2 separate regions of the Homo sapiens genome follow, and region 1 is linked to region 2. The links come from fine-mapping of genetic effects on gene expression. Tissue or cell type: skeletal muscle. Region 2 holds a variant in brackets; the other region holds the start of a gene. All regions are shown on one strand. Distances are from middle to middle.

What was found. PIP is the estimated chance that this variant, and not a neighbour inherited with it, causes the effect.
Region 1: SUPT3H starts here. The variant in region 2 is fine-mapped to the expression of SUPT3H in skeletal muscle (FUSION, PIP 0.95).

What each region holds. Positions count from the first base shown.
Region 1 is chr6:45,374,837-45,380,257 of GRCh38, reverse strand. SUPT3H (SPT3 homolog, SAGA and STAGA complex component) reads left to right here and starts at 2,324. Exons shown (of 11, transcript NM_003599.4): 1 at 2,324-2,490. All of the region lies in intron 2 of RUNX2 (RUNX family transcription factor 2), which reads right to left. RefSeq lists silencers at 2,033-2,082, 2,403-2,682 and an enhancer at 1,849-2,392.
Region 2 is chr6:44,829,400-44,834,820 of GRCh38, reverse strand. SUPT3H (SPT3 homolog, SAGA and STAGA complex component) reads left to right here. Exons shown (of 11, transcript NM_003599.4): 11 at 4,964-5,421. The coding sequence ends at 5,005. It overlaps LOC101929770 (a long non-coding RNA gene), which reads right to left. Exons shown (of 3, transcript XR_926855.3): 3 at 1,711-5,233. Among named protein-coding and RNA genes, the nearest start is that of MIR586, 370 kb to the left of the region's middle. The variant T/C (reference allele first, on the strand shown) is at 2,901.

The DNA.
Region 1 (5,421 bases), 550 kb before region 2:
AGAGGTGGTAGTCATCAAAGCCTTAACTTCAGCAACAGCTTCGCTGTTTTAGCTTTGTTATAATTAAGATACCCTAGTACCATTGATAGTTTAGGATATTTGATATGAATGTAATGCAAAAATATTTTTGGCCCTTTGTATATAGCAATGGTCTCAAACTATGAGCAAAATTATGGCTAAATCAGATTTTCAAAAATGGATTTTAAGAAATTCCAGGAGGTAGGAACCTGGTTAACTCATGTGACTTTAAAAATCAGATCTCTGCCAACAGCCCAATTCAGTTTCCTAAGAATAAATTTTTAAACTTCCTGTATCAATGCCTTAACTCAGTTTCCCTTCTCCATGTGTCACTCTCATTAACTTTTGTTGTGCGTGATTTTTTTTTTTCTTTTTTTGACGGAGTCTAGTTCTGTTGCCAGGCTGGAGAGCAGCGGCGTGATCTCGGCTCCCTGCAACCTCCGCCTCCCAGGTTCAAGCGATTCTCCTGCCTCAGCCTCCCGAGTAGCTGGGACTACAGGCACGTGCCACCACGCCCGGATACTTTTTTGTATTTTTAGTAGAGACGGGGTTTCATCATGTTGGCCAGGATGGTTTCGATCTCCTGACCTTGTGATCTGCCCGTCTCGGCCTCCCAAAGTGCTGGGATTACAGGCGTGAGCCACCGCGCCTGGCCTGTGTGTGATTTTATGCAGGCTGGACACCAGTATCCTAGAATAAGATGATCTGGATTCTATCCTGATAAACTGGATCAAACAGGTACTCATCTGATGCAGGTGAAACTCCAGTGCAGGAACTTCTATGATAACATTAACTGAACATAATTTTAATTGAAATGATCTACTTTTATGTTTCTTTAGATGTGAACATTAATTTTTCTCTTAATCTTCTGTTAACTAATTTCTTGGTAATGTACTCAAAAGAGCTTTCAACCAGTCTTCCCATGTAAGAAGTTATCACCATACTCACTCTGTTACTTTCCCTTATACTGCACACTTTGCTCAGCAATGAATTGATCCCTGATTTACACATCAAGCTGAGCTCTCACATCCTAAATATATCTATTCTTTTGGAATTTTAGGTATTTGGCAAATATTGAAGCGTTGGGGAGATTAAAGAGAATCAAACACAACACTAGCAGACTCAACTACAATCCACAGAGGAAATAACCAAATAAGTTGCTATTTTAAACAATTTAAGCAAATAGAAGGAAGGGATTTCAGAACTCACAGTATCTATAGGCAAGAAAATAACTGAAGCAGTGATGCTTAAAAAGACTTGGTGAGGGTTAATACTTGAATCCCTATAAAATACAGTATTTTATAGTATTTGACAACACAGGTGTGAAGGTGAGCATGGATAACCAGTTTTCTTCTCTAAGCAGGCAATAAGAATGTTAAATATAAATAAGACTTCATATAATATAAAGAGTGAAAGACTGAAAGCATTGTCTTACGACTACTGTATTATTTAAAGAACTACATCTATATCAATTAAATGTGGCAGGACAGAATGTACAGTACAATACTGGGGGTGCAAGATTTTAAAATGAGGAACAGGCCAAAATCTAAACACAGAATCGTCCAAAAAAAAAAAAAAGCCTTCAAGTAGAAAAAGTTTTCAATAACAAAACATGGTAGTTAAACGCCTGCGTCTAGTAACATGAGTTGGGGAAAAAACATTAATAGCAGATTAATGAAACAGATTCTGTGCGAGGTCAGGGTAGGGAGTGATGGCGCGCGGAAGCGGCGTAAGAGCTGGTTTCGCCGTCCCAGAAAGGGTTCCACATCCACACGCCTGTACTGCGGCCCTGCGGGGAGCGTTCAGACCCCTCCGTTTCCCTTCACCATTGTAAACGCGCAATCCCATTAAGATCCCGTTCACTCCAATTCCTGGAAAGAAGCTTAGAACGGTGAATCTCTTCCTCGGAGTTGAAAATCAACTTCCAGTGCCGGTCACCCAATCCTTCAAAAATCCTAGCCCTCTCGGGCCCAATTCCTAAAGAATTCAAGCCTGCACCCTGTACACCCTGACCGATCTCAGCTCGTCCCCACTCCGCTCCCAGCGTCCCCAGCTCTAAACGCCGCCGCGTGGCTCAGCGCTGCCCAAGCCGGGCCCTGAAGGCCGCGCACAACGCCCCGCCCCCGGCGAGCGTGGCGGAAGTAGCTCGCTCGGGCTGGGAGAGCGCGCGCCACCTGGCCAAGCGCGCATGCGCCCGCACTGCCAGTGCGGGGGGCGTCCGTATCGCTTACTCCTCAGTCTCCGCAACCCCCGCCCCACCGAGAGTCGGGCTCACGCCATCTTGTACCCCCCCCATCGCCCCGTCACACAGCCGAGTCACCTTTTCCCTTTCTACACTCCACACTCTCAGTCCCCCACCCCGCCCCTTTCCAAGCGTGTCCCGGGCCGCAGCAGCAGAAACCGCACCATCTCCACCCCCACATTCTCCTCGCGGGAAGCGCAGCAGTGCCTCCAAGGGTTCTTAAAGCAGAGGTTGTAGGGCTTGCGGGGGGCGGTGCGGGGATTCGGGCGGGGGAGACGTCAGAGAGCCGGGAGGGACGCAGAGCGGAGATCCCAGCGTCGCTGGGCCCCCGCGCCGGCCACGCCCTGGCCCCGGCTCGAGGGCGGCTGCCTGGGTCTTCGTGGTCTACGCCGGAGTGTTGAAGGGAGGGCGGCTGTGGGAGGCGCTGGCCGGGCGCAGCGCCCTGGTTCCGCTGCCGAGCGTGGAGTTGCCTCTCGACTCCTCCCTTTTGGCGGGTGGGCGTGGGGTGAGGGGGGCTGGGCTGTGCTGAGAAGCGGGGTGCGCGGGTCGTCTAGGTAGTGTGGGGGCTGCCGGAGGAATCATTAAAGAGGGAAATTGTTGCTTTATGGCACGGCGAGAGAAGAGTTAGGTAGTTAGTGGGAGTGTAGCATCCAGAAAGAGGAAAAGATCCGCTGTGTTCTCTGTGGGGTGAGCTCACGTCTGTGACCCCTGGGGAAATTATTTAGCTTGTCTTTGCCTTGTTTTGGTCTGTAAAATGGCGATCTTATAGCCTATTTCAGAATTGTGAGGATTATATGAGAAAATACACGTTAAACGCTTAGAACAGCGCCAGGTGCTGCTCAGTACATATTAGCTCTGCTTTTGCTCTCCACGTTTTAGGAGTTCAGAATGACTGTGACCTTATTTTCTCAGAGAATCAGGACACTTGGTCTCACACGTGAGAGTGAAGTTATGAAGACAGTGATATGTAATATTTGACACTCAGACGATCCTGGACGTAGTATTACTGTACACGTGGATAAATTAGCATTTCTCCAAGAGGCTAATAGAAATGTTAAGTTATTTCGGTAGAAAGAAATGTGTGTGTATATATATGTATATACATATGTGTGTATATAAGTATATGTATGTGTATATATGTATGTATGTATTTGGAAGGAGAGGACCTGGGGTCTTAGTATATGTGAAGGGCAGACTCTGGAAGAGGAATTAAATTCGCCCTGCAAAGATTTACTTGAAGGACAAAACTTGGGGAATTTCTGGTGAATGTTTCAAAGAGGCTGAATTTGCCTATGAGAAACAGTTCGTGAGAGTACTTTGCAAGAATGGAATGCTCTTCATTGTGCTATGGAAAGTTTCTTATCTCAGGATATTCGGGACGTTGGAGCGAAGTATGCCTAAGTCTAGGGCTGCACTTTTCACTAGCAGTTTCTGCCTTGATGGAGATGTTCCATAATCTGTGCCTTTAGGCACTAGTGGTAGCCTAGGCACAGTGGCTCTTCAGCACTTGAAATGTGATAAGTGTCACTGAGGAACTTAATTTTTAATTTTATTCATAAATTAATAAATTGATTTACGTTTAAATACCCACATGTGGCTAGTGGTAGCTACTGCATTGGACAGCACAGGGCTACAATTTAGATTTTGAGAGTCCTTCCGAGTCTTGATATGGTTGAGTTTTAAATCAGATAAGCCAGCTCTTTGGAACATTTATTGCCATAGGGAATTGTAATTATATTCAAATAATGCCTTTCATTCAAATACTGCAGTTCAGACCATGGGTCTGTTAGTACTTATTTACATCTTGACAAATTAAAGCAAAACGTTGTCTCCTAGGTTGTACAGCTAATGCCAGATTCAGAGAGCTATGACAGTATTAACTGGAGTTTTCTTTAAACATTATTGTACTATTTTGTGATTGTCGGTTTCTGCTATCTTTTACCACTTTGGTTGGTTTTTCAGTGAGAAGTTTCCAGCTCTTATTCAAGTTTTTTTCTTTTTTAACCTTTTGTGTAATAAAGCGATTTGAAAAATTGTAACTCTTGAGCATTAGGACATTTTAGAACTAGTTTTATGGTTATCCAAATCTTTTGGAGAGATAAGTGAAATTAGGTAATAGATGTTTCACAAAATTACTTTACTTGAAATATGTGCATCTGTTTTTTTTTTTTAAAGCAAGTGTATATAAAGTCAAATTTGAAAATAAAACTAAAAGAACAAATAAAAAACCTTTATAGGTAGCGGTAGCACCCTTAACCTTGGCCTGATGTCTGTAAAATGGTGCCCTTGGGCCAGGCACGTTGGCTCATGCTTGTAATCCCAGCACTTTGGGAGGCTGAGGCCAGAGGATCTCTTGAACCTAGGAGTTCAAGGCTGCAGTGAATCATGGTCAGGCCAGGCTTCCAGCCTGGGCTGCAGAGGGAGACCTTGTCTCTTTAAAAAAAAAAATGATGCTCTTGGTCTTAAGGCTGAAGATAATTGTTAGATCTGGAGCAATAACTTAAAGCTCACGAGTTAAATCAGATGGAGAGAATAGCTCATAATATACAAATCAGAATGGGGTGCTTTTATGGGTGACTATAGTATCTTAATTTTTCTGAGACAGTCGTAGTATAAAGCCTGATTGTTCCAGCACAATTATTTTATTTAATAGAACCCCTTTCACTATCAAAATGTTCGAATTGGGACCACATCATAATGTCACCCTACTGTTAGCCTTGTTGGGACTTGTAATATATAGTTTTAGGATGATTAACCACATTGCAATATCAGAAATACTTTATTATTTTTGAGATGGAGTTTCACTCTTGTTGCCCAGATTGGAGTACAATGGTGCGATCTCAGCTCACTGCAACCTCCCCCTCCTGGGTTCAAGCGATTCTCCTGCCTCAGCCTCCCGAGTAGCTGGGATTACAGGCACATGCCAGCATGCCTGGCTAATTTTTGTATTTTTTGTAGAGACAGAGTTTCACTATGTTGGCCAGGCTGGTTTTGAACTCTTGATCTCAAGTGCTCCACCCGCCTCAGCCTCCCAAAGTTCTGGGATTACAGGTGTGAGCCACCGTGCCCGGCCAGAAATATACTTTAAAACAGTGACAAAATTACTGTTTTTGTGTCTAAATAATAAATAAGATACCTGGAATAAGGCCAGCAAGTGACTT
Region 2 (5,421 bases):
GTTCTTTATCCAGAAAAACTGTTTCTTTCCCTGCATCTGTTTTCCCCATTAAGGCCGGGGAAGCTAAACACATAGCTTTGGGCAGAATCAGAACCATCTGCAACAAGCCCTAAACTGAGTCAGGAATCCTAGGCGAAAACCATGTGACTGTGGATGGGTCACTCTCTCTGGGCATTAGTTTTTTCATCTGTTAAATTAAGAATGGGGCCAGAGGAATTCACAAAGATACTTTCCAATTCCAAAGTTCTATTGTTCCTTGATTCTAGATGTTAGTAAAGGGTTTGTTCAGCTTGGTTTAGCAGGCTTAGTTTCCAAATTCCTTTTTCACTATAGTATTAAACATGTTGTGGCAGTCAGACAGACTGTGCTCCTAACAGTGGCATCTCAGCATCTTGGGGGCGGAAAGCAATGCCTAATCTACAGATAACCTAAAGTGAGAGATACAGGTAACCCATCTGCTGTGGATAAAAGCCACAATCTGAAAACTTCAATTTCTGCCTCTTCCATGTTAAATTTACTAAATGCCAAAATTAGAATTTCCATTAGGAAATATTTATTTACTCCATAATCATGACAGATTCTGAAAATGTTCCATTTATTGACGAAACCATTATTGGGTCCTGTTAATGATCTCCTCATCCATTTTACCACTGTTCTCAGCTCTCACTATGCACCTGGGATACTTCTAAGACATTCCAAAGCCTAATCTCCACTCAGACCCATTGGCTTTGAAGAACTGGAGCTACAGCATCTGTGTCTTTTAAAGCTCCCCAAGTGATTTGGGTGCAATGTTCTATACTATACACTATTCTTAAAGTTAGTTTGGAAAATAAGCAGTAGTTGAGAAAGCCTCCAAAGTGAAGATGATTTAGATTTAAGGTCCATTGTCTGTACTCGGAAGTATTATACCTGGCTGATTTAGCTTAAATTTGAAATAAAATTGTAATTTACCCTTTAAGTGATGTTTAGCAAGAACTGAGTTTGTTAGGACTAAGAGAATATGTGTATCTACAGTGCTCTGGGTGGAATTGGGGCAGGGGACTGTCTGGTTTGTTTTGTTTATTGTAAGACAATGTAGTATAATGAAAAGAACACAGGCCCTGGGTTTTAAATCCAAAATCTACTCTTTTACTAATTGTGGTAAGGCTCAAATTAGATACAGACATGAAAATATTTCATAAACCATAAAACCATGTATCTCAGCATTTTTTAATCTTTGCCCCTCCCTACTTTGAGAAATAGACAAATCTCATGCCTTTCGAAAGTGTAAGTAAGTTCAAATTAAATATTGTGATTAGAAGCAAAAAAACAAAAGCCTGCTTTGTTTTCTCCCTCCTTTCTCACTTTGAGAATGACCTCTCAGTGCATTTTACTTGTGGTGGTTAAAACTTGAATGTGAAACTGGAAGTTTAGTGAAGCCAGGGACTGTCTATTTATCTTAGTGTCCTGTTGTACCACCAAGCACACAGTGATTTACAGAATAAGAACTCAGTAAAAATTTGCTGAAATCATATTAAGCAAATTTATAGGAATTCAGACAATAGAACCAAAACCTCTTTCTTATGCCTTTGAGAAATAAAGTATTTGTAGGAGAGTTTGGGACTTACTTACTACAGTGAGATTCTTATGCTAGTTTATTTAAGATTTGAGAAAGCAGAAGAGAATCAGGAAAGGTAATAGAATAAAACAAGTCTGTACTGGAAGAAAGACTGGTGTTTATAGTTAATGTTTTAATAAGTAGGCTAATGGCAAACATAATACGCAGTAATATTTAAGTCGGAACTACAAAGTAAGTTTTGTAGCATGTGTCCTTTTAAGAAAAATATTAATCTTTTGCTTTTTAATATTCATTTGTATCCCCTAAGATGTATCAATTTATGATAACCCATAAAAAACAGAAGTAAACCACTATGGGATTTAAATGTTTTCTCTACCTTGTCCATATGAAGTAAAAAACAGTCACTTTAAAAAGTACACACTTAGAAATTAATTACCCCACAGTGCCCAGTGCAGTAGGTAAAATCTGTATCTGCTTATCCAGGTAGATTGACATTCTGGCACAGGTCGTAATTTGGCACTGTATGAATAAATGAATGTCAAAAATTGGGTCCTCAATTAAAAAAAATGGGAACTATGAATTCCTAATTTTATAACTAATTGGGCCTTAAACACATTAAGTATTGTCTTTGCTGTGAACTTTAAGAGATGCTAAAATGTCTGAGCTTTTCAGCAAATTCACAAAGGAGCAACTGATGTTGAGAACAGAGCTTTATTAAACCAGAAATGAACCTTAAGTAGTATATAGGCACGTAGGATCCAGTTTGTTGGGGAGGTCTAATTGTGTTATTGATTAAGCTATAATTTTCAGTAGTGGGTGGAAGTCCTGACTCTTTCTGGTCAAAGCCTGGATTTTACTAACTAGGAGTGTCTGTAAAGATAGATACAGAACTGGGAATCATTCATAGGGTCTGACAGAAGAAAGTAAGTGGGATACAAAGTATTCCATGAGAATGTGGCCTCTGGAAGGCCCTCACACCAAGCAATGTTTAAATTTAGTTTCAACATTTGCAACACAAATAGAGAGAAATTTACAGTTGACGTGAAGATGAGTTGTTGTCTTCATCCATCTTCCTGTAAAGTTGCTTATTCTGGAAAGCATGCCAAAGTTGGGACGTTCCCATAATTGCCCTACATAGACAATGTACATCCTTTGTACATCAAAAGGAAAAAGCAGTGACTCAAAATAGAGTACCCTAGGGAATATGTTTACTGAAATTGCTCTTCACTAATTACACATGCTTGTTTGTTCCTTCTTTATTTATTTCAGAATTCAAATGGGAAGAACATCACAGAAATCTGGGTCAACTCTAAACTTTGGTTTTCTCATAGGATCTGTGTTA[T/C]TAAATAAGTTATTAAAAAAAAATCTTTTGTTTGCAAAGCAGTGATAAATCATCTGTGAAGGTGAATCGATCTTTCAAAAGTGACCTTTTCCATGCTAATAAGAACTATTTTATATTGCCCCGTCTGAAAAGATTAAAACCTGGTTATTTCTCAGGTGAACTCAGCTAAGACTCAGTCTCCCTCTAAGCCAAAACCTCCTTTCTCAAGCAAGGCTCACTTCAACACTGTATGTTTAGAAGGAATGCAGCCTTACTCCTAGGTCCATTTAACTCCATATAAAACCATCCCTGTGCTTTAAATAATACATGATGTTAAAGATTGTCACTGTGGTTATAAAATTTAAAATATCAAGGTCAAGAAGCTAAGAGTATTACTTTGGCATAAGCCTCTCTGTAAGGCAGCCGTGGTGGTAGGAGCTGTTTGTTTCACAGACTGAGGCTCCACTGCCTGTGGTTGTGGGAAGACACCCTATGCATTCCTGCAAGTTATTTGTGGCTCTCTGAGGCATTCACTTAACACTGTTCTATAGCGCAATTTTAGGAAGTAGAGTTGGAATTTTCTAGTCCTTGTTAGAATGTTTTCTTCAATCCAGAAGTGTTCTACAACACAAAAAGCCCCATGGTAAAGAACAAGCTCACAGAAAGAACACTGAGGAATGACACTTGGAATGTGCCACTGTTTTGTCATCCCTGATACACTGATCTGGAGTGAACTGCATAGCAGCATAACTAAGCAAAGAAATTTCAGCCAGGGCGCCAAAGCCTGACAAGCACAGTAAATCTTCTTAAGCAGGATATTTGGAGAGAAGGTTTTCAAGTTAATTGAATTTTATGATTAAGAGAAGGTTATCTAGAAAACTATATTTGTTTCACCTCATGTTGATGGAAGTCTTTCTAAAAGGGTTAAGTCTACTTTCCATTTTTAGTATAATTAATTATAAATGTGGTTTAATTATTTTTTAAGATGAAGATTTCACTGCCTCCATAGCATTATCTTGATCGTAAAAGGTTATTCTGTATTTCTTAAAATATGGCTGTGGCTGTTCAAGGTTAATTCATTGGGCTGGAAGTATACAGACTCCAGAACTGCTTCAGAGTTATTAGCCTAAGGGGGAAAAATCCCTAACCTGAATTTTATGATTTTCTTTGTTTTTCTGAAAAGATTGACGGTTATGAATTCTCTGGATGTGACTGTTACTAGTTTAAATGATTAAAAATGTGCCAGGGAAAGGGAAATTTTATTCCTAAGTCCTGAATTTTAGTTCTGCTCCCCTCTGGGTCTTATGGTGGAATTCAGGATGTTACAGAGACCCTGTGTGATCCAGGTCTCCCAACACTGAAATGCAAAATATGTCTCTTGGAATGAAAAGCATGCAACTTTTCTTTCTTTACTGAAACGTATTAATTATTGCACTTAGAATCCATTTTCCCATTTTCTTTTATGGGAGTATTTTATCCCACCATGCATATCCATGTGTACATCTGTACGTACAGGTATGTATATAAAATTATATAAGATTTGCATTTTTGATACTGTCTACAATATGCAGAACTATACAGAACTCCTTTGAGATCATCATATTTTAGGGAGGAGGAGAGGCCTCTATTAGTGTCTGTTCCGACAGCTTTTCACTCAGACTATAAATTAGGCCCGGGAAGGGCCAGTAATGAGTCAGTAATTTATAGACTATTAAGATACTTAGTTAGTTAGAAGTGATTCCTGAGCATATCGAATAGAGAACACATGTTTATAAAAGACAAACAGATTCAATACATCTCTTTGGCCTAACCAAGCCCAATCAGTTAACAAAATGGGATGTCTTATTTTATGTATCTGCTACTTCCCAAAAATAGAATCACTAACCACTTGTTAACCACACTGACTTTTTAATAGACAGAATGGTTGCTATAGTTTTGCCACCAGAAATATTCAGATTAAGCATTCTATTAGATTGTAGCCAGCAGAGTCTACAAAACAGGAAGAGGGCTCTGCTTGCTTTTTGCCTCCTTTCCTTGTTTGACTTCATGTGATAATTCATTGCAGATTTCTTTTTCTTTGACAGAATGCCTACCGCAGGAATGGGATGGCTTTTCTAGCCTGCTGATGTGACAACTGTGATGTGCCTGCAACAACAGGAAAGGCAATGTTATATTAAGGTGATTTCTTGTGAACAAAATAAAATACAAATTTACCTTTCTTTTATCTGAGGGAGTGGGCTGGTCTGTTGTGACTTTCAACTTGCTGACTCCTCCTCTTTTCCAGCCCCTCAACCATCGGTCTTGTTTACTAGATGGGCTGTTCAGCTAATTAATGGCAGGATGTTTAGGATAGTCTGTAGGTGGACAAGAATGCAGATCACACAGTTTTGAAATTTTAATTTGAGTAGATTTACTGCCCTCAGCTCACATACCTTAAAAGCAGTGGTTGCCCCCGTCCAGCGTTTTGTCTGCATTTTATTTGATATATTTTATAATCCAGGTTTGGAACAAGGAAACAAAATTAAAAGGACAGTGAGTTTTC